7 separate regions of the Homo sapiens genome follow, and all the other regions are reported to be linked to region 5. Evidence: microRNA targets listed by miRTarBase, many of them from high-throughput screens and not tested one by one. Region 5 holds a microRNA gene; each other region holds the end of a gene's coding sequence. Distances are from middle to middle.

What was found. The annotated mature microRNA hsa-miR-520d-3p reads AAAGUGCUUCUCUUUGGUGGGU and lies in region 5 at 1,963-1,984, shown strand. An mRNA with a match to its seed (bases 2 to 7 or 8) in the 3' UTR can be bound and repressed. Matches are read on the target gene's strand: a 7mer-m8 pairs with bases 2 to 8, a 7mer-A1 pairs with bases 2 to 7 and ends in A, and an 8mer does both.
Region 1: the mRNA of FAAP24 is a reported target of hsa-miR-520d-3p. Seed matches in the 3' UTR shown: 7mer-m8 at 359-365, 7mer-m8 at 1,232-1,238 and 7mer-m8 at 1,697-1,703.
Region 2: miRTarBase lists GPR157 as a target of hsa-miR-520d-3p. Seed matches in the 3' UTR shown: 7mer-m8 at 1,511-1,517.
Region 3: the mRNA of DNAJC10 is a reported target of hsa-miR-520d-3p. The part of its 3' UTR that is shown has no 7-base or 8-base seed match.
Region 4: miRTarBase lists MBNL3 as a target of hsa-miR-520d-3p. Seed matches in the 3' UTR shown: 8mer at 1,854-1,861.
Region 6: miRTarBase lists KCNJ8 as a target of hsa-miR-520d-3p. Seed matches in the 3' UTR shown: 7mer-m8 at 2,398-2,404.
Region 7: miRTarBase lists KCNK6 as a target of hsa-miR-520d-3p. Seed matches in the 3' UTR shown: 7mer-m8 at 1,746-1,752.

Annotation. Positions count from the first base shown.
Region 1 is chr19:32,976,440-32,979,534 of GRCh38, forward strand. It overlaps FAAP24 (FA core complex associated protein 24), which reads left to right. Exons shown (of 5, transcript NM_152266.5): 5 at 1-1,790. The coding sequence ends at 243. It overlaps RHPN2 (rhophilin Rho GTPase binding protein 2), which reads right to left. Exons shown (of 15, transcript NM_033103.5): 15 at 2,153-3,095. Among named protein-coding and RNA genes, the nearest start is that of FAAP24, 5.7 kb to the left of the region's middle.
Region 2 is chr1:9,101,942-9,104,941 of GRCh38, reverse strand. GPR157 (G protein-coupled receptor 157) reads left to right here. Exons shown (of 4, transcript NM_024980.5): 4 at 308-3,000. The coding sequence ends at 523. Among named protein-coding and RNA genes, the nearest start is that of GPR157, 26 kb to the left of the region's middle. RefSeq lists an enhancer at 1-843.
Region 3 is chr2:182,776,549-182,779,548 of GRCh38, forward strand. DNAJC10 (DnaJ heat shock protein family (Hsp40) member C10) reads left to right here. Exons shown (of 24, transcript NM_018981.4): 24 at 573-3,000. The coding sequence ends at 584. Among named protein-coding and RNA genes, the nearest start is that of DNAJC10, 62 kb to the left of the region's middle.
Region 4 is chrX:132,377,068-132,380,182 of GRCh38, reverse strand. It overlaps MBNL3 (muscleblind like splicing regulator 3), which reads left to right. Exons shown (of 9, transcript NM_001386889.1): 9 at 506-3,115. The coding sequence ends at 517. All of the region lies in intron 2 of RAP2C-AS1 (RAP2C antisense RNA 1), which reads right to left. Among named protein-coding and RNA genes, the nearest start is that of MBNL3, 110 kb to the left of the region's middle.
Region 5 is chr19:53,718,187-53,721,301 of GRCh38, forward strand. It overlaps MIR520D (microRNA 520d), which reads left to right and starts at 1,910; the gene lies at 1,910-1,996. It overlaps MIR517B (microRNA 517b), which reads left to right and starts at 2,890; the gene lies at 2,890-2,956. It also overlaps the pseudogene RNU6-803P.
Region 6 is chr12:21,763,180-21,766,284 of GRCh38, forward strand. KCNJ8 (potassium inwardly rectifying channel subfamily J member 8) reads right to left here. Exons shown (of 3, transcript NM_004982.4): 3 at 1,776-3,105. The coding sequence ends at 2,544. All of the region lies in intron 2 of KCNJ8-AS1 (KCNJ8 antisense RNA 1), which reads left to right. Among named protein-coding and RNA genes, the nearest start is that of KCNJ8, 10 kb to the right of the region's middle.
Region 7 is chr19:38,326,845-38,329,959 of GRCh38, forward strand. KCNK6 (potassium two pore domain channel subfamily K member 6) reads left to right here. Exons shown (of 3, transcript NM_004823.3): 2 at 1-144; 3 at 336-3,115. The coding sequence ends at 559. Among named protein-coding and RNA genes, the nearest start is that of CATSPERG, 7.4 kb to the right of the region's middle.

The DNA of each region.
Region 1 (3,095 bases), 21 Mb from region 5:
CAAACCAAAGAGCCCAGTAAGAACCCTCTTCTCGGGAAGAAACGGGCCCTGCTGCTGTCTGAGCCTTCGCTCCTTCGAACCGTGCAGCAGATCCCAGGAGTTGGAAAAGTTAAAGCTCCCCTTCTCCTCCAGAAGTTTCCAAGCATCCAGCAACTGAGTAATGCTTCCATTGGGGAACTGGAGCAGGTGGTCGGACAAGCAGTGGCACAGCAGATCCATGCCTTCTTCACGCAGCCCAGGTGAGGGCTGGCCTCAGGGCCACGGCATCTTCTCCTGAGACCACAAACACCAGGATCTTGTTTTCAGCTTTAAAAACCAAGAGAATGGGCCGGGTGCACTGGCTCACGCCTCTAATCTCAGCACTTTGGGAGGCCGAAGACAGCGGATCATCTGAGGTCAGGAGTTCAAGACCAGCCTGGCCAACATGGAGAAACCCCTAAAAATAGGAACAATTAGCCAGGCATGGTGACAGGTGCCTGTAATCCCAGCTACTTGGGAGGCCGAGGCATGAGAATCACTTGAACCCGGGAGGCGGAGGTTGCAGTGAGCTGAGATCGTGCCACTGCACTCCAGCCTGGGCACCAGAGCGAGACTCCGTCTCAAAGAAAACAACAAAAAAAAAAAAAAAAGAAAAAGGATTTTCTCCAGCAGCAACCAGTGAAAGATGAGGCGAGGCTTGAATGGAGCCCGTGGGTCGTCCTGCCTTAGCGTCTGAGTTCAGCTTGTGAAGTTAGTGGGCCGCAGAGGGCACTGCCTTCATTCTGCTAAGACGAAAAGGGCTGGTGGGATCTTCGCAAGAGAGTCAGGGACTCACACTCAGCAAAAAGCATTAGGGCCGATTTTAATGTGCGACCTTGACCTGCATCTGTCATGGAAAGTGCCTTCTAAAAAGCTTCAGTGGTGGATGTGACCATCTGAAGGAAACAAATGTACAAGGAAGCACTGTGTATCCTAAGCCCTGGGTTCCCAGAGTTTCACCTGCTGTTCATCAGGTCTGGCCTTCATATACCCGTACTGCGAGGGCTGTTTCCAATGTAAATAAATAACTGCGCAACAGTTCCTTCCTCCTTTCCTTTGTTCCTCCCTCCCCCCGGCCTTTTTTTTTGGCAGATGTACAGTTTGTTTATAATCACTGCATATGTCTTCTGCACACAGAAAGTATGAAGTCTGAAGTTCCCACTTAAAGTTGAAAACTCAACGGCCGGGCATAGTGGCTCACACCTGTAATCCCAGCACTTTGGGAGGCCAAGGGGGGTGAATCACAAGGTCAGGAGATCCAGACCATCCTGGCCGACATGGTGAAGCCCTGTCTCTACTAAAAATACAAAAATTAGCTGGGTGTGGTGGCACACACCTGTAATCCCAACTACTCAGGAGACTGAGGCACGAGAATCGCTTGAACCCAGGAGGTGGAGGTTGCAATGGGCCGAGATTGCACCACTGCACTCCAGCCTGGATGACAGAGTGAGACTCCATCTCAAAAAAAAAAAAAAAAAATTTAAAGTTGAAAACTCAACATGCATGAGGCAGAACAGGCTGTGTTTGTATATGAAAGGCCCAACAATGGAAGGATACAAGAAAATGATGGCAGCAGCTGCATCTAGTGAGGGAAGCAGGGGCTGGGGATCAAAAGGTACAAATTGCCCATTCAAAAAATAGACACAGGCCAGGCACAGTGGCTCACACCTGTAGTCCCAGCACTTTGGGAGGCTGAGGTGGGAGGATTGCTTGAGTCCAGGATTTCGAGATCAGCCTGGGCAACATGGCAAGACCCCATCTCTACAAAAAAATCAAAAAAATTAGCCAGGCATGGTGGCTCATGCCTGTAGTCCCAGCTACTCAGGAGGGTGAGGTGGGAGGATTGCTTGAGCCCGGAAGGTTGAGGCTGCCATGAGCCACAATTGCGCCACTGTCCTCCTGCCTGGGTGACAAAGCGAGACCCTGTCTTGAAAAAAAGACAAAAACAAAAAATAAGCACAAAGATACCATCTGTCTTAGAAAATACTAAGATAACTTGACAGCTTTTTAAGTTCTGCTTTGTGAAATGTTAGTAACTAAAAAAATCAGAACATTAGAAACTGTGTGCATTGGGGAGAAACAATTTGAAAGAGGAGGGAATGAAAATGAAATAAAAGTAAAAAGAAATATTAACTCGGGTAAATGAATATGTTTATTTAAATATGTATACAAGCATGGCCCTAGGAGCAGCAGATACACTTTCCCAAAGGTGGTTGCTTCCTTTAAGATATTGCACAATAGAAAATAAACTCTTGTCAATCCTTAAAATTAGTCTTCAATGCTATGTATTTTAGCTATGTAACTTGTACTGTGTCAACAGTGAACCTTATTAGATTCACGGTGTCATCGAACTTATAGCAAGATAAAAATCAATCAGTAGGAATGTCATTTTAAAAAGTAAAATAGTGGGACGGTTGTGGTGGCTCATGCCTGTAATCCCAGCACTTTGGGAGGCTGAGGTGGGTGGATCATTTGAGGTCAGGATTTCGAAACCCGCCTGGCCAACATGGTGAAACCTCACCTCAACTAAAAATACAAAAATCAGCCAGGCATGCTGGAGGGCACCTTGTAGTCCCAGCTATTTGGGAGGCTGAGGTAGGAGAATCGCTTGATCCCAGGGGGCGGAGGTTGCACTGAGCTGAGATCACACCACTGCACTCCAGCCTGGGCAACACAGCAAGACGCTATCTCAAACAAAAAAAGGAAGTCAAATAGAGCTTTAAACCTGAATCATTTACATCTTTACTTTATAAAATGTAAAACTACTTTTTTACCCAAGACTTAAAATATAGAATTATGTAACTTCTACTTTAAACAAAATGAAAAATGTTTTGAGTATCAAACAGTATATTATCTACCTTGTAGACAGCATCTTCATCTAACACTGCCACTGTGTTAGTAATTCTTAAATGACATCAAACTAGAAGAAAAGCTGCTCCTACATTGTTTTTATTTAATAAGACAAATTTGGCACTAGACTTTTTCTAGAAATAGCATTCATAGTCTATCGATATAATAGTAACATCTTGTTTTAGGTTAATGAATTCCTATTAGGAAGCAGCACTTTGGGACAGTTT
Region 2 (3,000 bases), not on the chromosome of region 5:
TGCAACTTCCGCCTCCTGGGTTCAAGCGATTCTCCTGCCTCAGCCTCCGTGTCGCTGGGACTACAGGCGCCCACCACCATGCCCAGCTAATTTTTGTATTTTCAGTAGAGACAGGGTTTCACCTTGTTGGCCAGGCTGATCTTCAACTCCTGACCTCAAGTGATCCGCCCACCTCAGCCTCCCAAAGGGCTGGGATTACAGGTGTGAGCCACCGCACCCAGCCTAGCCGTTTCTCTTAATTGCAACAGCGCGTGTGTTTCTGAGACCAACTCCAGCCCCATGCTCACAGCTCCTTTTCTCCCGACAGGGTATCGGGAACACGTTTCAGGGAGGTGCCAACTGCATCATGTTCGTCCTCTGCACCCGCGCCGTCCGAACTCGGCTCTTCTCTCTCTGTTGCTGCTGCTGCTCTTCTCAGCCTCCCACCAAGAGCCCGGCTGGCACTCCCAAGGCTCCCGCGCCTTCCAAGCCAGGAGAATCTCAGGAATCCCAAGGGACCCCAGGGGAACTTCCAAGCACCTGAGCTTTTGTCCTTTCTAGTTCTGTGCATAGGTGCTGCCTTCCTGGGGGTAGGCACTTCTGTGAGTCCCTGCTGCAGGGGCAGAAGTGCATGTCTGCTGCACCAGAAGCCCCCGCTATTGATGCTCTCGGCTCCATTGGGAGAGCAGCTGCCAACTCAGCTTCTTCTACCTCCTAGATCCTCAGGCAGCAAGTTCCACCGGTACCAGCGTCCTGGCCCACGGGTGGGCGTTCATCTGCATAAGGGTAGCAGTGAGATTCGGGAAGCCGGTGGCCCACAGCTGTGGCCACAGTGCCCCCACCCAGTGGACCTTGATGTCCTGAGGACCACACAGCACTGTTTACAATCTGAGGGACCCACATCTGTGCACCTATCCTCTGTGTGATTAAATAAGCTGTCAGGGGCCCTCAGAGATGTGTCCCCATCCACACATCATGGAGCAGATTCCCGGCTGGTCAGGGTGTTAAGATTCTCTGGAGAACCCGGCTTTCCTTGGAGACTTTGCTCAACAGAGGAACCAGTTGCCATTCACCAGGTTGAAGGTTCCCCTGAGGTTGCATGGTGACCACCAGGGGCAAGCACAGCCCGGCGCAGCTGCTCAGGGACAGCAGTCTCCCCGGGCCTCCTGGCCTCTCCCTCCATGGGCTGCTAACCCTTGCCGTAGCTTGGGTTTGAGTGTCAAGCACAGGCCAGAATCCACACTCCTGTCCCCACCTGTCAATCACTTCAGACACAGGTTCCCTCCTTCCAATTCCAAAGCTGGAACAAGGGCAGGAAGAGGCGTCTCAGGGAACCCCCGAAGACCCCACTGTCTCTCCAGCTCCTTTCTTAGAATCCTCCTCTTCTTGGGGAGACCAAAGGGGATGAGTAGGGAGGGGTTCTGGCTTATTTACTTCTTAGTTTAGTTTTTTGTAAGTAAAGTGGCCGGAGAGATGAGTAATCCAAATACGATTCCTCAGGCCGGGCACAGTGGCTCACACCTGTAACCCTAGCACTTTGGGAGGCCAAGGCAGGCAGATCACCTGAGGTCAGGAGTTCAAGACCAGCCTGGCCAACATGGTGAAACCCTGTCTCTACTAAAAATACAAAAATTAGCCAGGCATGGTGATGCACGTCTGTAATCCCAGGTCTTTGGGAGGCTGAGGCAGGAGAATCTCTTGAACCTGGGAGGCGGAGGTTGCGGTGAGCCAAGACCACACCATTGCACTCCAGCCTGGGCAACAAGAGTGAAACTCGGTCTCAAACAAACAAATACGATTTCTTCCTAAAGGTGAAGGTTTTAAGCTTCAGAGTCAGTTTTTTTTTTTTTTTTTTTTTAAAAAAGGAGCCTCATTCTGTCGCCCGGAGCTGATGTGGTGGTGCGTGCCTGTAGTCCCTACTACTCAGGAGGCTGAGACGGGAGGATCCCTTGAGCCCAGGGATTTGAGGCTTCATTGAACTGGGATGGCACCACTGCCACTCCAGCCTGGGCAACAGCAGGACCCTGTCTCAAAAAAAGAAAAAAACAAAGGATTCAAAAGGATTCAGCTGTTTTGTATTCAGCTGAGGTAAGTGGCGGCATGGAGCATGGAGCGATTATTTACATTTAAAAGAAAAGAATTGAAAGTAAGCACCTGTATCTCTATTTTTATTCTGTGGGTCTTCCACAAACGCTTTCGTCTTATTTCAGAAAACAGCTTCTGTGTTCAGTCACAGGAGCCATCGGCAAAGAATGGAAGTGGAAATGCTACCTCCAGGGTCTTGGTGAGAGAAAGTACAGCTTTACCTGATAGGTGATTTCCCTTGGAATCCATCAGAACTCGACAAAGCATGATTTTCTGAGCCTAGTAAAATGGTTCTGAATCAAAACCGAAGTCACGCTGTGCTGCCGATCCCTGTTTGACTCTCAAAACCAAAATCTGTATCAGGAAAGGAATAATCATTTAGCAGACTGAGTCCAAAATGCTCATTTTTGGTTTCCTGTGAAAATGGATTTCTTTTTGTCGCTTTCTTTTTTTTTTTTTTTTTTTTTGAGATGGAGTCTCACTCTATTGCCCAGGCTGGAGTGCAGTGGTGCAATTTTGACTCACTGCAACCACCGCCTCCCAGGTTCAAGCGATTCTCCTGCTTCCCAATCCCAAGCTGCTGGGATTACAGGCATGCGCCACCATGCTCGGCTAATTTTTTGTATTTTCAGTAGAGACGGGTTTTCACCATGTTGGCCAGGCTGGTCTCGAACTCCTGACCTCAGGTGATCCACCCACCTCAGCCTCCCAAAATGCTTCGATTGCAGGCATGAGCCACTGTGCCTGTCCAAGAAAACAGATTTCTTGATGGAAATTAGTGAGACAGACATCCCCTTAGGATTGAAAGAGAGCTCTGGGCTGCTCCAGGGAAAGCCACTTGGCAGAAATAGCCTCTGTAAGTGAATTCTGGATTCCCCTGAAGACGTTACAGCAAATCTCTGGGTATGTCTCTGGTAAAGACCCTCACTTGAGCTT
Region 3 (3,000 bases), not on the chromosome of region 5:
AAAGGGCTAGAGAAGACTGGCTTTATAGCACCATATTAGACAATAGGTTCTACTGTAATCCAGTTCAAACTGCAGACCCCAATAGACAAAGCCTTACAACCTACCTCAAGAATATTTTTTACGAATCTGAAAGGTAGGAAAGAGTTATGAGTCTGTATTTTCTTGGTTCCACTGAACAAACATGTTTTTCTAGTGTTTCGCTATATTAGTTTTCTCAAGATATTTTATTTTGAAAGGTGTAACTTTTATCTCATTAAATATTTGAAATTTAAAAATTGTCATAATCTAAAATATCATACCTGAAATTAAGTTAAAGAGAATACCCAATATGCTTGAAATTATGTAAACCTATATAGTTAGTAATATCTGCTGTGAGCAGGTAAGAACTAGGATATTCTTTTCTTTTTTATTGTTATATTTTGGCAAAGTATATTTCATGTCATGATCCATTAAATAAGAATATTGAGTATTTCTGAAAAAGTAAAATGTTGGTTTGTGGTATTTCACCTTATTTTTAACATTACCAACTCATACTTTCTCCTTTCTCTATCGCCTTTACATTATTATTATAGGATGAACTTTGATAATGTTGAAGATGAAGAAAAAGTTTAAAAGAAATTCTGACAGATGACATCAGAAGACACCTATTTAGAATGTTACATTTATGATGGGAATGAATGAACATTATCTTAGACTTGCAGTTGTACTGCCAGAATTATCTACAGCACTGGTGTAAAAGAAGGGTCTGCAAACTTTTTCTGTAAAGGGCCGGTTTATAAATATTTTAGACTTTGCAGGCTATAATATATGGTTCACACATGAGAACAAGAATAGAGTCATCATGTATTCTTTGTTATTTGCTTTTAACAACCTTTAAAAAATATTAAAACGATTCTTAGCTCAGAGCCATACAAAAGTAGGCTGGATTCAGTCCATGGACCATAGATTGCTGTCCCCCTCGACGGACTTATAATGTTTCAGGTGGCTGGCTTGAACATGAGTCTGCTGTGCTATCTACATAAATGTCTAAGTTGTATAAAGTCCACTTTCCCTTCACGTTTTTTGGCTGACCTGAAAAGAGGTAACTTAGTTTTTGGTCACTTGTTCTCCTAAAAATGCTATCCCTAACCATATATTTATATTTCGTTTTAAAAACACCCATGATGTGGCACAGTAAACAAACCCTGTTATGCTGTATTATTATGAGGAGATTCTTCATTGTTTTCTTTCCTTCTCAAAGGTTGAAAAAATGCTTTTAATTTTTCACAGCCGAGAAACAGTGCAGCAGTATATGTGCACACAGTAAGTACACAAATTTGAGCAACAGTAAGTGCACAAATTCTGTAGTTTGCCGTATCATCCAGGAAAACCTGAGGGAAAAAAATTATAGCAATTAACTGGGCATTGTAGAGTATCCTAAATATGTTATCAAGTATTTAGAGTTCTATATTTTAAAGATATATGTGTTCATGTATTTTCTGAAATTGCTTTCATAGAAATTTTCCCACTGATAGTTGATTTTTGAGGCATCTAATATTTACATATTTGCCTTCTGAACTTTGTTTTGACCTGTATCCTTTATTTACATTGGGTTTTTCTTTCGTAGTTTTGGTTTTTCACTCCTGTCCAGTCTATTTATTATTCAAATAGGAAAAATTACTTTACAGGTTGTTTTACTGTAGCTTATAATGATACTGTAGTTATTCCAGTTACTAGTTTACTGTCAGAGGGCTGCCTTTTTCAGATAAATATTGACATAATAACTGAAGTTATTTTTATAAGAAAATCAAGTATATAAATCTAGGAAAGGGATCTTCTAGTTTCTGTGTTGTTTAGACTCAAAGAATCACAAATTTGTCAGTAACATGTAGTTGTTTAGTTATAATTCAGAGTGTACAGAATGGTAAAAATTCCAATCAGTCAAAAGAGGTCAATGAATTAAAAGGCTTGCAACTTTTTCAAAAACCTGTTAGAATATGCTTTATTGTGTTTTGAGGAGTTTTCCTTTTTTTCTTTTCAATATCACTTTATCCTGCTCACCAGTATTTCCTCATAAGGGTTATTATAGCCATAATTAATGTTAAAATAGACTTTGTTCTTCATATTCTCCCATCTTTTTCGCTACTATATACTCTGTCTGGATTCTGCTGTATGCCTGTTGGCATATATGGAACAGTCACCACTTGTCACACTTAACACCAGCTTTTTGAATTATGATCAGTAATGGCAAGAGCCTTTCATTCTCGAATGTTTAAAGCCTAGGAGTTCTACAAAATTGGCTTCTTTCTACAAGAATCCCAAAATGGAATGCCTAAAGAAGTCTTACTTGGGTAAATACTTACTAAAATATACTGGTTATGTGCATATCACCACACTGGACACTGAGGAGTGTTCAAAAGGAATCTAAGACATGGTCCCCATCTTCCAACTGTCTGTAATTCACTGTTTTGTCATTGAGCTCATAAGGTACTTACATTACTACCTATAAATGTTTCCTGTACTTGTTAGTTGTTGAGAAACATTTTAGGCAGTAAATAAAATAGTAAATATTATGTGTCCTATAATTTGACCTAAGCTGTGTGCCTTTGGAATCAGCTCTAAGCCAGGGCCCCCTGGGAGTCATGTTAAGAAACACGTATCATAAAGTGACATACATCAAGGTTATCTTATATAGTCATAACAGTATTATTGGGTCTTTCAAAAACAGCTGGCAGATTGAGCTTTTAATGGCTATATTGATACAGTAGATAGAGCACCTCTAAGGAGTACCAGGTATAATGTGCCATTTCTCTCAGCAACACCATTTTTGTGTGCAGCTGACCCTCTAACATGGTATCAATTCTAGCTGACCAAAGCACATTCTATCAGGCAGCCAGGCTTGGAAATTAGGTCCATTTAAAGTATGTGGCTTACAGTCAGGTATGGTGGTGTGCGCCTATTGTCCCATCTACTTGAGAGGCTGAGGCAGGAGGGATTGCTTGGGCTCAGGATTTTGAATCC
Region 4 (3,115 bases), not on the chromosome of region 5:
ACTTCAATATGTAATAGGTGCTAAAAATTCCTCTAAAGTTCAAAAATGTAATTTTGTACAATACAATACCCAGATTTCACAGGTAGGCTACTTCTGCATGGCTCTAAAACATTCAGAGAAAAAGTTGAAAGTGTATTTAATATTTGCATATTTCAAAATGTTCGGTATCAAACATGTTTTCTCAGTACATGCCTGTTGAAAGGTGGACACATGGGTGTATGTTCAACAAAAAGTAGATAGATAATGCCTTAAACATTGGATTGCATCTCTGTTAGGACAGTTCTCCACATTAGCACTCAAAGGGTATCATAGACTATCATAGATATATGGTTCTTTCATGATCATTCTCAAAAGCCCCATTTCAATCTGAAATTCAGATTGGGGATATTTTGGCACTGTTAACAGACAGAACTGGAACAAGACCCACCACACTCTCCTGACTCTTCCTTCAATAACCTTTCAATATTTCTCACTCTTTCTTTCTTTCTTTTTTTTTCCATTTCAGCTGAAATTCTGAACAGCAGAGTTATGGAGTATCAGAATCTTTCCATGGAAACCTCCATATGGCCTTTCTATATATATTCTCGTATGTCTTATTCTACCAACACAACAATAAGCGTGTTGCAGTCAATGTATTAAGCAAAGCAAACCTGCCAGCCAGCAAATTCAAATAAAAAATAAAGCATTAAAAATCAATGGAGATGTTAAAACAACACAAATAGAAAACTAGTAACTACCATCCATCCTATTTGAATTATCAAGCAGAACATGACCATAAAATTTGGTAACTTGTTACATTACTCTTTGTGATTTTCTAATAACCATGCTAAGTGTATTTCCACAGTGAGCTTTTGGCTTACTATATACATTCTTGGTGGATAAATTGTTCATCTGTTTTTGAAGTGTTACCTTACTATTTTGTTTACAAGATAGTCTATTGGGTTGATTCAGGATGTAACAAATATATTCAGTACCATTTCTTGTGTTGTATTGTGTTGTGCTGTGTTAGGTTTTTACATACTGTAGTGTTTTGCTGTATATGTGTGGTGTTTGATTTCAACTAAAGTGTTATTAGTGGGGAACAGAAGTATATGTGCTTAAGAACATGACAGGTTCATGCAAATATGCTCTCTTTCTTTAGAATATTTCTGTAGGTTTCTTGGGACTGACATTTAAAACGCCTCACTTTTGAATGTGCACAAAACCTGCTCATTAACATGCATGTGTATAATTTGTACCTGCAGATCTGATGTTGCATAATACAATCAAATTACTAGATTTTTTAAAGAGAGAAATAATTACCTGCACAAAGCAGAGAACTTCATAAAACATTAACCCCTAATTCACTCTTCTTAAATAGCTTGGCAAATAAGACTTTACCTTTAAATGAATTTCTCAGCATTTATACTAAAAATTATGTAAAGTGCTCATTAGATTTTTTGTGTGTGTGGCTTGAGAATCCCATCTCCTAAATTGAGTGTCTAAAACTGAGCCATTTGTCATCTTCAGCTGAGAAACTGGTACTTGGGAGCTTAAAAATATGCTAATTACAAGTTATAAATCAAACGGAGAGATGGGGGCATGGAGATAGTTTTTACGTACTGGAGGAAAGTGTGTAAAACCATGGCAATGTCACCTTTTACACAAATGCCATTTTCCAAATGCAAATGGCTCATGCTCTTTAGACTACTCTTTGAATAACAAGTAAGATGCAATCTAGCAAAAGTCAGTCAGGGTGAAAGAGAATTGGTTGCAAATGAGGACTTCCCTCCCCAAATGGACAGTCTTCTCTGTTGATCACAGAGGGAGCCTGAGTACAGGCTTGGAGAAATGGCTAGGACAGGGAACAGGGAAGCACTTACAATTATTCCTTGATTTATTCAAAAGAACTGGGAAAGATGGTTGTAGTTGTCTTTAGCTTCGGTTCAACTGAGTTTCGTTTTGTTAAACAGTTCAGTGAAGGAGAAAGCACCTGTGATATATGGCAAGTGTCCCCCTGCCCAAACTTTAACATCAGACCCTCTCACATCATAACCAAGCCTCTTTTATGCTTGTTTGGATTCGTTTGCCTTTATATATGTTTGAAAATGACAATAGAAAGGGTTTTATCACCCTTTGAATGAGACAGAGTGGCTATACTCCACAGAGCTCAGCTGAGTTCACATTACTAATATTTATGAAAGAATTTTACAACCAAATAATTCCTGTGGTGTGTGACATATCTCATCCACTCTACTCATTTATTAATGTTATTATACAGTGGTGGAAACACATGACATTTTACATCAAGTAATAGATTTAATATTTTCTAGTAAATAGGCGCTCTTCCACCAGAAAGTATAAAACCATCATATACATATATATATATATATATAATGGTTTTTCTCCTTCATGAAAATGACAAGTAAAAAGCAAATCTGATTGAGGATACCTTAAGCTGGCTAGAAGTGTTTGAATCACAGAACAATGGAATTAGCAAAATCCTTTTTATAGTTGATGGAACTGAATCCAGGGGCATATGACTTGCCCAAGGCTACCTTAGCCATTGTGGGACCCAGAAATATCTCCTGCTTCCCATTGTTCCTCCTTTTCACATTGTTTTTGCTTCAGAACATTTGATGCTCTCTTCCAAAGCAGACCCATTTGGCTCAGAATATAAGAGAGCAAAATTAGCTTTCTGGGAATTGATACTCTGTTGATCTTAATTATCCATCCAAATCCTGATCAACAGTGCTTTCTAAACAGCCTTGCTTGTATTGAGTCATTGTCAGCTGTTGACAATGTTGCGTGGAATTAGAGATCAAGAGTTGTCCTGACCTTTACCTATGGACTCTTTGAACCAGTTAATTTCTATTTCTGAAATCTTAACATTGCTATAGAAGAAAGTAGTGTATGCCTTTTTGAAATTCATCATGTATGGAACTGAGTTTTGTATGATCCGTGCCAGTGCCTCTCCAGAAGGGCAGATCTGATTACATGAATCCAGGAGGGATGCACCTGAGCTAGTCTGGATATATTCCTTAAAGGAGACAAGAACTTTTTTGTGCAAAATGAACTTTTGTGTAGTTTGACATCTGCATGCAGTGAACTGTCTCACTTAACTTTTTCAACTTTG
Region 5 (3,115 bases):
AGGATCACCTGAGGTCGGGAATTTGATTCCAGCCTGGCCAACATGGTGCAGCCCCATCTCTACTAAAAATACAAAATTAGCCCAGCATGGTGGTGGTATATGCTTGTAATCCCAGCTACTCTGGAGGCTGAGGCAGGAGAGTCGCTTGAAGCTGGAAGGCTGATCTTTCAATGAGCTGAGATCACGCCACTGCACTCAAGCCTCGGCAAAAAGAGTGAGACTCCATCTCAAAAACATAAAAAATAGGCCAGACACGGTGGTCCACTCCTGTAATCCCAGCACTTTGAGAGGCCAGGACAGGCGGATCTCCTCAGGTCAGGAGTCCAAGACTAGCTGGGCAAACAAGGCAAAACCTCGTCTATACTAAAATTAGGAAAAATGGCTGGGAACAGTGGTGGACACCTGTAATCTCAGCTACTTGGGAGGCCACGGCAAGAGAATCTCTTGAACCTGGGAAAAGGAGATTGCAGTGAGACGAAATCACACCATTGTACTCCATCCTGGGTGACAGAGTGAGATTCTGTTTCAAAAATTAAATAAATAGGCCGAGCACAGTGACTCATGCCTGTAATCCCAGAACTTTGGGAGGCCGAGGTGGCGGATCACCTGAGGTCGGGAGTTCAAGACCAGCCTAACCAACACGTAGAAACCCCATCTCTACTAAAAATACAAAATTAGCCGGGCATGGTGGCGCATGCCTGTAATCCCAGCTGCTCGGGAGGTTGAGGCAAGAGAATCACTTGAACCCCAGGGGGCGGAGGTTGTGGTGAGCCGAGATTGTGCCATTGTATTCCAGCCTGGGCAACGAGTGAAACTCTGTCTCTAAATAAATAAATAAAACTATTAAATAAACATTAAACGTTAAAAAATAAAAATAGATAAATATGAGATCATCATGAATTTGAGTGTCACCTTTGCGCAGGGCCCATGGTAATCTTTGTCATTCCAATTTTTTCATGCGTGCTGCCAAAGCTAGCACTTGTGTGTAGGAAGTATTCTTCCTGTGAGCATACAATATATGGAAGTTTCTTTTATTATTATTATTTTTTATGTTTTTGCGACTGAGTTTTGCTCTTGTCGCATAGGCTGAAGTGCAATGGTGTGATCTGGGCTCCCTGCGATGTCCACCTCTTGGGTTAAAGCGACTCTCCTACCTCAGCCTCCTGAGTAGCTGGGATTACAGGCATACACTTCCAGGGCTAGCTAATTTGTTGTATTTTAGTAGACGGGATTTCTCCATGTTGGTCAGGCTGGTCTCAAACTCCCGACTTCAGGTGATCTGCCCACCTTGGCTTTCCAAAGTACTGGGATTGCAGACAGCCACCGCGGCTGGCCTTCATATATTCTTATATATATAATATCATGTACACACAAAAGACTCTTTTACACCCTGAGAATACTCTTATATCACTTTGGGCATTTTTTTGTTGGTGTGTGCATTTTTTGTTTGTTCGTTCGTTTGTTTTTGAGACAAGATCTGGCCCTGTCACCTATGCTGGAGTGCAGTGGTGTGATCTCGGCTCCCGGCAACCTCAACCTCCCACCTCAGCCTCCTGAATTAGTGTCTACAGGCATGCACCTCTATACCTGGCTAACTTTTGTATTTTTACAGATGAGGTTTTACCATGTTTCCCAGGCTGGTGTCTAACTCCTGAGAATATAAGGTATATGTAGTAGGCGTTGCTTTTTCTCTTTGAAGACAAAACCCAGGACAGTTGTCCCTCGATGAACAAGGCTAACCTGCTGAACGTTTGAAGCAAGGAACTGGAGATGGTCTTTGTATCGGTTTATGTTCTAGATTCCAGAAAATATGCAAACAGGACCAATAAATGCATCTTTATTTTTGTGTCCATTTTGACCAGGTCAAGGAAAATTTCAACAAGAAACCCAGAGTGCCGGAGCAAGAAGATCTCAAGCTGTGAGTCTACAAAGGGAAGCCCTTTCTGTTGTCTAAAAGAAAAGAAAGTGCTTCTCTTTGGTGGGTTACGGTTTGAGAAAAGCAACGTTGAAGTTGATGCTGATTTCGGTAATACATTTGCAGAGCATGCTTATCACACTTGGACGATGGTGGGGTTCTGTTTTGGTTTTGCTTTTTTATTCTAAGGCTCTGTGTTGCTCATGCTGGAGTGCAGTGACATGTCCAATATATCTCTTGGCTTCAAATGGTCAGCCTGGGCAACACAGGGAAATTCTGTCTCAAAAAATAAACAAATGAATAAAAATACAAAATAAAGCCGGGCATGGTGGCTCATGCCTGTAATCCCAGCACTTTGGGAGGCCGATGCAGGTAGATCATCTCAGGTCAGGAGTTTGAGACCAGTCTGACCAACGTGGTGAAAATCCGTCTCTACTAAAAATACAATAACAACAAAAATTAGCCCAGTGTGGTGGTGGGCACCTGTAATCCCAGCTACTTAGGAGGCTGAGGCAGGAGAATTGCTTGAACCCGGGAGGCAGAGGCTGCAGTGAGCCGAGATTGTGCCACAGCATCCAGCCAGGATGACAGAGTGAGATTCCGTCTGAAAAAAAAAAAAAAAAAAAAAAGCTGGGCGCTGTGGCTCACGCCTGTAATCCCACCACTTTGAAAGGCCGAGGCGGGTGGATCACGAGGTCAGGAGATCGAGACCATCCTGGCTAACACGGTGAAACCCCATCTCTATTTAAAAATACAAAAAATTAGCGAGGCGTGGTGGTGGGTGCCTGTAGTCCCAGCTACCCGGGAGGCTAAGGCTTGAGAATGGCTTGAACCCAGGAGGCGGAGCTTGCAGTGAGCCGAGATCGTGCCATTGCACTCTAGCCTCGGCAACAGAGCAAGACTCCGTCAAAAAGAAACAAAAACAAAAACAAAAAAAAGAACCCTACAGTACTGGAGCAAGAAGACCTCATGCTGTGACCCTCTAGATGGAAGCACTGTCTGTTGTCTAAGAAAAGATCGTGCATCCCTTTAGAGTGTTACTGTTTGAGAAAAGCAACGTTGAAGATGCTGCTGATCTTGGTAATACATTTGCAGAGCGTGCTTATCATCAGACTTGCATGATGTTGGGGTTCTCTTTGGTTTGTTTTTTTCCAAGACAGGTTCCCTGTTGCCCAGGCGGGAGTGGGTGGCACCTCCAAC
Region 6 (3,105 bases), not on the chromosome of region 5:
GCTGCTGTATGAATTATGGAGGTGGAAGAAAGGGTAGAAGCAGAGAACCAAAATACTGAATATAAAATAATATTTAAACACAATATGTAAGTCAAAATCATACATGTACACATATATATGTACAGAGTCCGTCTTATCTTCTAAAACTATGTAGTTCTCAAAATTGCTTACCCAGTGAAATATGTTTTAGCAAAAATAGGTCAGAAAATCATTTTAATACTCTCTAAAACATTTTCAGACTTTTAGAAATTGTTGATAGAACCTTTTGTTTGGTGTGGCTGTCTCTAGCTAAATGATGTCCCTGTCTGAGCCACAGCTTGACATAGGGAGCCCCTCATAACCTTTCGTTGACATGCCCATTATATTGACAGTCATTAGGTCCTTGACACTCAGCGTTTAGTTGCAGCTGGAAGGTGGCTGGGGGAACTTCCCGTACTCCATAGCTAGCTTTGCCCCTGGTGCCAGGGAATTCTCTAGACCCTGGACTCAGAAATTTTGCATCTCAGCTCCACTATGTCCTGACATCACCTGTTGCACAGCCTGTGTCACCTCTACAAAGTTGGGCTACTACTGAGCAGCAGGAAGGCACTATCCATGTTCTTACTGCTGGATTGTGTGGCAGCTACCTCTGGGTCTGCTCAGCTGCCCTGGGGTGGGAAGGTGGGAACCTGCATCTGTTCCAGAACTGCTTTGAGGTCTGATATCCACCTCCATAGTTGCTGTTGGGTTAAGTTTTATTAAGATAGTCTTTAGCAACCTAGACAGAAATGTTTTAATATTCAAACAATTGGTACAGATGCATGCATATATACAGTATCCTTGCTTGGACTATGAAGGAAGTGGTGGAGTAAAGAGAATTGGTCATATTCTGGATATATTTTGAAGGCAGAGCCGAGAGGTAATTGCTAATGGATGGCATGTAGGGTATGAAAGAGGCAGCAAGAATGACTTCCAGGTCATGGCTTGATGCCTGAGTGATTGGAAGAAAGACTGGGAGGAGGGCAGCTTTTGTGAGTGAGAATGAAGTATTTGGTTTTAGACCTAGTAAGTTTGAAATGCTTGTTCAATCTCCAAGTGGAGCCTCAGGTGCCTGTTTGATCTGTGAGTCTGGAGTTCAGAGGAACAGTTAGAACCCTTTCAGGAATGATTAACTCAATGACGTGATAAACAGTTTCTGTTCACCTGGTTGGAATCATGAGTCTTAAGATAGAACATTTCATAATTACCTATTTCAATGTTCATAAATACAAACCCCCAAATCTGTGTGAAAGATTTCACAATAGCTCAGCTTTCTGATGTTTAGCTATAAAATGTAAGAATAAAAGCATATATAGTTTATTAACCTAGTACTTCTCTCTCCTGTCTCATCCCTTCCTTGAAGAAGCAGGCACTAAATATGCTTAAATGAAGCTTTGATAGAAAATCTCACTTTAGCAAATGAGATGATGCTAAATCTATAAATGCCAAGCCTAAATTCAGATACTACTGGGAAGGAAGTATAGTTTTAAGATGGGAGATTGAAGATTAAAAAAAAAAGCTTATAGGATTTTTATGGTATGTCAGGCTTAGATTGAAAAACCAAGAGGACATTTTAAAACCTGAAATAAAATCAAAACAAAGCAAAAAAAAGCTAGTTTTGGAGCAAACAGACTTGAGAGAGAGGAATCTCAGAGTGAGTGTTATCACTTTGACATCTCTTTTACATGGCTCTAAAAACATCTTGAGTTTTAACTTGGGATGATTTTGTGAAAGAGGAATCACAAAACTACAGTGAGTACAAAGAAAATGTTTTAATAAAATATTCAATACAGTATTTCCCTGTGGGGATTCTAGAAGAAGAAGTGAGATGCTGAAGGAAGTGACTGTCACTGTGGGGAACCCAGTCCTAAATGAGACAAGACTTAGCTTTCCTTCAAAGACACCTTGTCCAGCTCTGCCCAACAGGCCGCAATGAGATGGACCAGGAAACCTTCAGGAGTCACCGACAGACAAAGCGAATGAACTGAATCCACTTACAAACAGATCCACTTAAGCAGTTTTTGCCTCAGGCTTCCTACCAAATGCAGTTATCATGGAGACAGGAGAAGGCTGATGTACAAAACGCATTAACATGATTTTGTTTTTTCCCCTCCTATTCTATTTGCATTTCCAGAGTGATCATTAGTAACACAGCGATCTGGGTTTCACCAACTAAGCATTTCAAACAGACTCATTTCTTGACCAAATTTTGTGCTCAAGGCCTGTTACTATTAGTGTAATTCTTGTGTTTCAAATTGAGAGAAACGAGCATACCCACCCCTGCACATAACTTAAGTATATCACTGCGAATTCTACATGTATGAAACAAGCATAAGCCATGAATCCTCCACTTGGTGTGTTACTTTTTATTACTACAGAAAGTGCTGTTGCTTGAATATGAATATCATTTAGTGTAATAAAATGTAGAAGGACACATTATTGTGTTCCAGCTCTGGTTCAGTCTGGCAGTGCCCAGCATAAACCGTCAAAACTTGATAAAAGACTGTCTTGGGGTTATCTTGCTGTCATGATTCCGATGTGTTTTGATTTCCTTCTGGAGTCATAAATTGCACCTTTGGTACCATGAGGGAAGAATTGTTCCTTCGGATAGAATTGTTCCTCCTCATGGAATTGTTTCTTCTCATGGAGTTGCGCTTCCTCAGAGAATTTTGATGAGACAGTTCACTCTTTTGGAGGGTCTGAATAAGGATGGAAGGTTTCTCATCCAGCTCTCGGGCACTGCACCGTGGAGCAGCTACTTTAACAGTGTTGCCAAATTTGGAGTAATCCACAGAATACACTCCTTCTTCCTCAGTCACAATGGACACAAAGCGGTGGCCCCATTGGATCTCCTCAGCAATGTAGGAGGTTCGTGCTTGTGTGGTGATGCCAGTAGTTTCAACCACTCCTTCCAGAATAACTATGACCTCCAAGTCTTGGTTGGCCAGGTCAGTTGCTGAGATGTCATACAGGGGACTGCGCTTGTCAATCACGTGGCAGATGATCAAAGGGGCCACCAGAAAAATGTTATTGCTCTCGATTGGGTTATCAACAGGAATGTCCAGTTGGTGAATAGGAACCACCTCC
Region 7 (3,115 bases), 15 Mb from region 5:
TTGCCCACCTCGAGGAGGCCTGGAGCTTCTTGGATGCCTTCTACTTCTGCTTTATCTCTCTGTCCACCATCGGCCTGGGCGACTACGTGCCCGGGGAGGCCCCTGGCCAGCCCTACCGGGCCCTCTACAAGGTGCTGGTCACAGGTGAGCTGGGTGGCTAGGGCAGGGCTTTGAGGAGGACCTAGCCCTGTCCCTGGGGGAGTTAAAGGCTCACAGTCCCACTCTGGGACTTCCAAAAGGGATCCAACCCCACCCTGCAGGGTCCAGTAGAACTGCGGCCCCGCCTGGAAAATCTGAGCCCCAGGATGACCAACGCCCCTTCTCCGCCTTTACAGTCTACCTCTTCCTGGGCCTGGTGGCCATGGTGCTGGTGCTGCAGACCTTCCGCCACGTGTCCGACCTCCACGGCCTCACGGAGCTCATCCTGCTGCCCCCTCCGTGCCCTGCCAGTTTCAATGCGGATGAGGACGATCGGGTGGACATCCTGGGCCCCCAGCCGGAGTCGCACCAGCAACTCTCTGCCAGCTCCCACACCGACTACGCTTCCATCCCCAGGTAGCTGGGGCAGCCTCTGCCAGGCTTGGGTGTGCCTGGCCTGGGACTGAGGGGTCCAGGCGACCAGAGCTGGCTGTACAGGAATGTCCACGAGCACAGCAGGTGATCTTGAGGCCTTGCCGTCCACCGTCTCTCCTTTGTTTCCCAGCATCTGGCTGGGATGTGAAGGGCAGCACTCCCTGTCCCCATGTCCCGGGCTCCACTGGGCACCAACATAACCTTGTTCTCTGTCCTTTCTCTCATCCTCTTTACACTGTGTCTCTCTGGCTCTCTGGCATTCTCGCTGCCTCTGTCTTTCCCTCTTGCTGTCTCTGTTTCTCATTCTCTTTCATGTTCCGTCTGTGTCTCTCAATTAACCACTCGTCAACTGCTGATTCTACTGGGCTGTGGGCTCAGACCTCATTTCAGGCACCAGATTGGTCGCTACACCCTGGACAAGTGACTGCCCGTCTCTGAGCCTTGATTTCCTCAGCTGCCAAATGGGAAGAATAGAAGAATTTGCCCCTAAACCCCTCCTGTGTGCTGGCCCTGTGCTAGACAGTGCTGGAGACATAGTTGGGGGTGGAGAACTGCCCTTATGGAGCTTGCAGTCCAGTGAGGTGGACAGACCTGTCCCCAGACAGTGATGGCCCAAAATGGTCAGGACTTTAATGGAGGAGGTGAGGTGTTGAAAGCACAGGCAGAGTGGTCAGGGCTGAAGTCGGAGAAGCATAGGGACTAGGCCCAATCCAGCCTGGAAAGTCAGGGAGGACTTCCTAGAGGAAGGGACATCGAACTAAGACCTGAACTATGAGAAATAGGCAGGAAGAAGTTGTACCTGACTCATTTTTCTCAGGTGTCTCCAGGGAGCAGGACCCATGGAGGGACCCCTGGTGTAGGCCTGGGCGATAGACTCTTCCTCAGCAGCCTGGCAGGCAGGAAACAGACATAGGACCCCAGCCCAGATCTGAATGGCATGGGAGGTGCTGCCCTTAACCATGACACCATTGTAAGAGCTGTCCACATTTGTATGTTGTGCCCTGGAATCAGCCTGGTTGAGCTCAAATCCCAACTTAGCCACGTCTGGCCTGTGTCCTTGGGCAGTCACACTACCTCTCTGATTTTGTTTCCTTATCTGTAAAATGGTGATCATCATAATACAACTTCAAAAGGATTTCAGGCTGAGTGTGGTGGCTCACGCCTATACACCCAGCACTTTGGAAGGCTGAGGAAGGAGGATCGCTTGAGGCCAGGAGTTTGAGACTAGCCTAGGCAACACAGTGAGGCCTTATCTCAACAACAACCACAAAATCTAAAAATTAGCTGGGTGTGGTGGTGCATGCCTGTGATCCTGGCTACTTCAGAGGCTGAGGTGGAAGGATCACTTGAGGCCAGGAGTTTGAGGCTGCAGTGAGTTATGATGGCACTGCTGCACTCCAGCCTGCGGGACAGAGTGAGACCCTGTCTGAAAGAAAGAGAGAAAGAAAGAAAGAAAGAGAGAGAAAGAAAGAAAGAAAGAAAGGGAAAGATGGAAGGAAGGAAGGAAAAAGAAAGAGAAAGAGAGAGAGAGAGAAAGAAAAAGAAAGAAAAGTAAGAAAGAAAAAAGAAAAAGAAAGAAAAGTAAGAAAGAAAAAAAGAAAAAGAAAGAAAGTAAGTCCTGGCTAACACGGTGAAACCCTGTCTCTACTAAAAATACAAAAAATTAGCCAGGCGAGGTGGCAGGCGCCTGTAGTCCCAGCTACTCGGGAGGCTGAGGCAGGAGAATGGCGTGAACCCCGGTGGGGGCGGAGCCTGCAATGAGCCGAGATCGCGCCACTGCATCCAACCTGGGTGACAGCAAGACTCCGTCTCAAAAAAAAAAAAGAAAGAAAGAAAAGAAAAGAAGGAAAGAAGCGGGGCACAGTGGCTCAGTCCTGTAATCCCAGCACCTTGGGAAGGCCAAGGTGGGAAGATCACTTGAGGCTAGGAGTTTGAGACAAGCCTGGCCAACATAGCAAGACCCCATCTCTACAAAAATAAAAATTTTAAAAAGGGCTGGGGCATTTGAGCTGGGTCCCAACAGTAGACAAGTAGAAAAGGCATGGAGAGGGCATACCAGGTGGGAGGAGCTGTGTGCAAAGGCCTGGAGATGGAAAAGCATGCTGGCCACCAGCTTCTGACAAGCAGTTTAGTATGAACGGTATGCAGGGAAAGAGGGAAGGAGGGCAGAGGGGTGCGCACGAGCACCCGTTAGTGTCCTTAAATGACCAGCATGGGAACCTGGTCTCTTTCCTGAGGGCCCTAGAGAGCCATGGAAGGGTTTAGAGTAGGAGTGGGTCATGGTTAGGTTTGGGTTTTAGGATGATCCCCCTAGTTGCTCTGGAGAGGTGGAGCAGAGCGGGTACTGAGGCTGGGTGCCTGTGGGAGGCTGAGGCAGGAATGAAGAGGGAGACGATGGGCCTGGGCTGAGCCATGGAAGGGAGGAGGGGTGAGTGCGGGCACACTCAGGAGCCAAGTGGACAGGCCATAGCCCCCACAGACTGGAGGGACGCGGCTAGGGAATGTCCCACAGAGTGGCCAGTTATCCCTGAGAGAAAGAGCA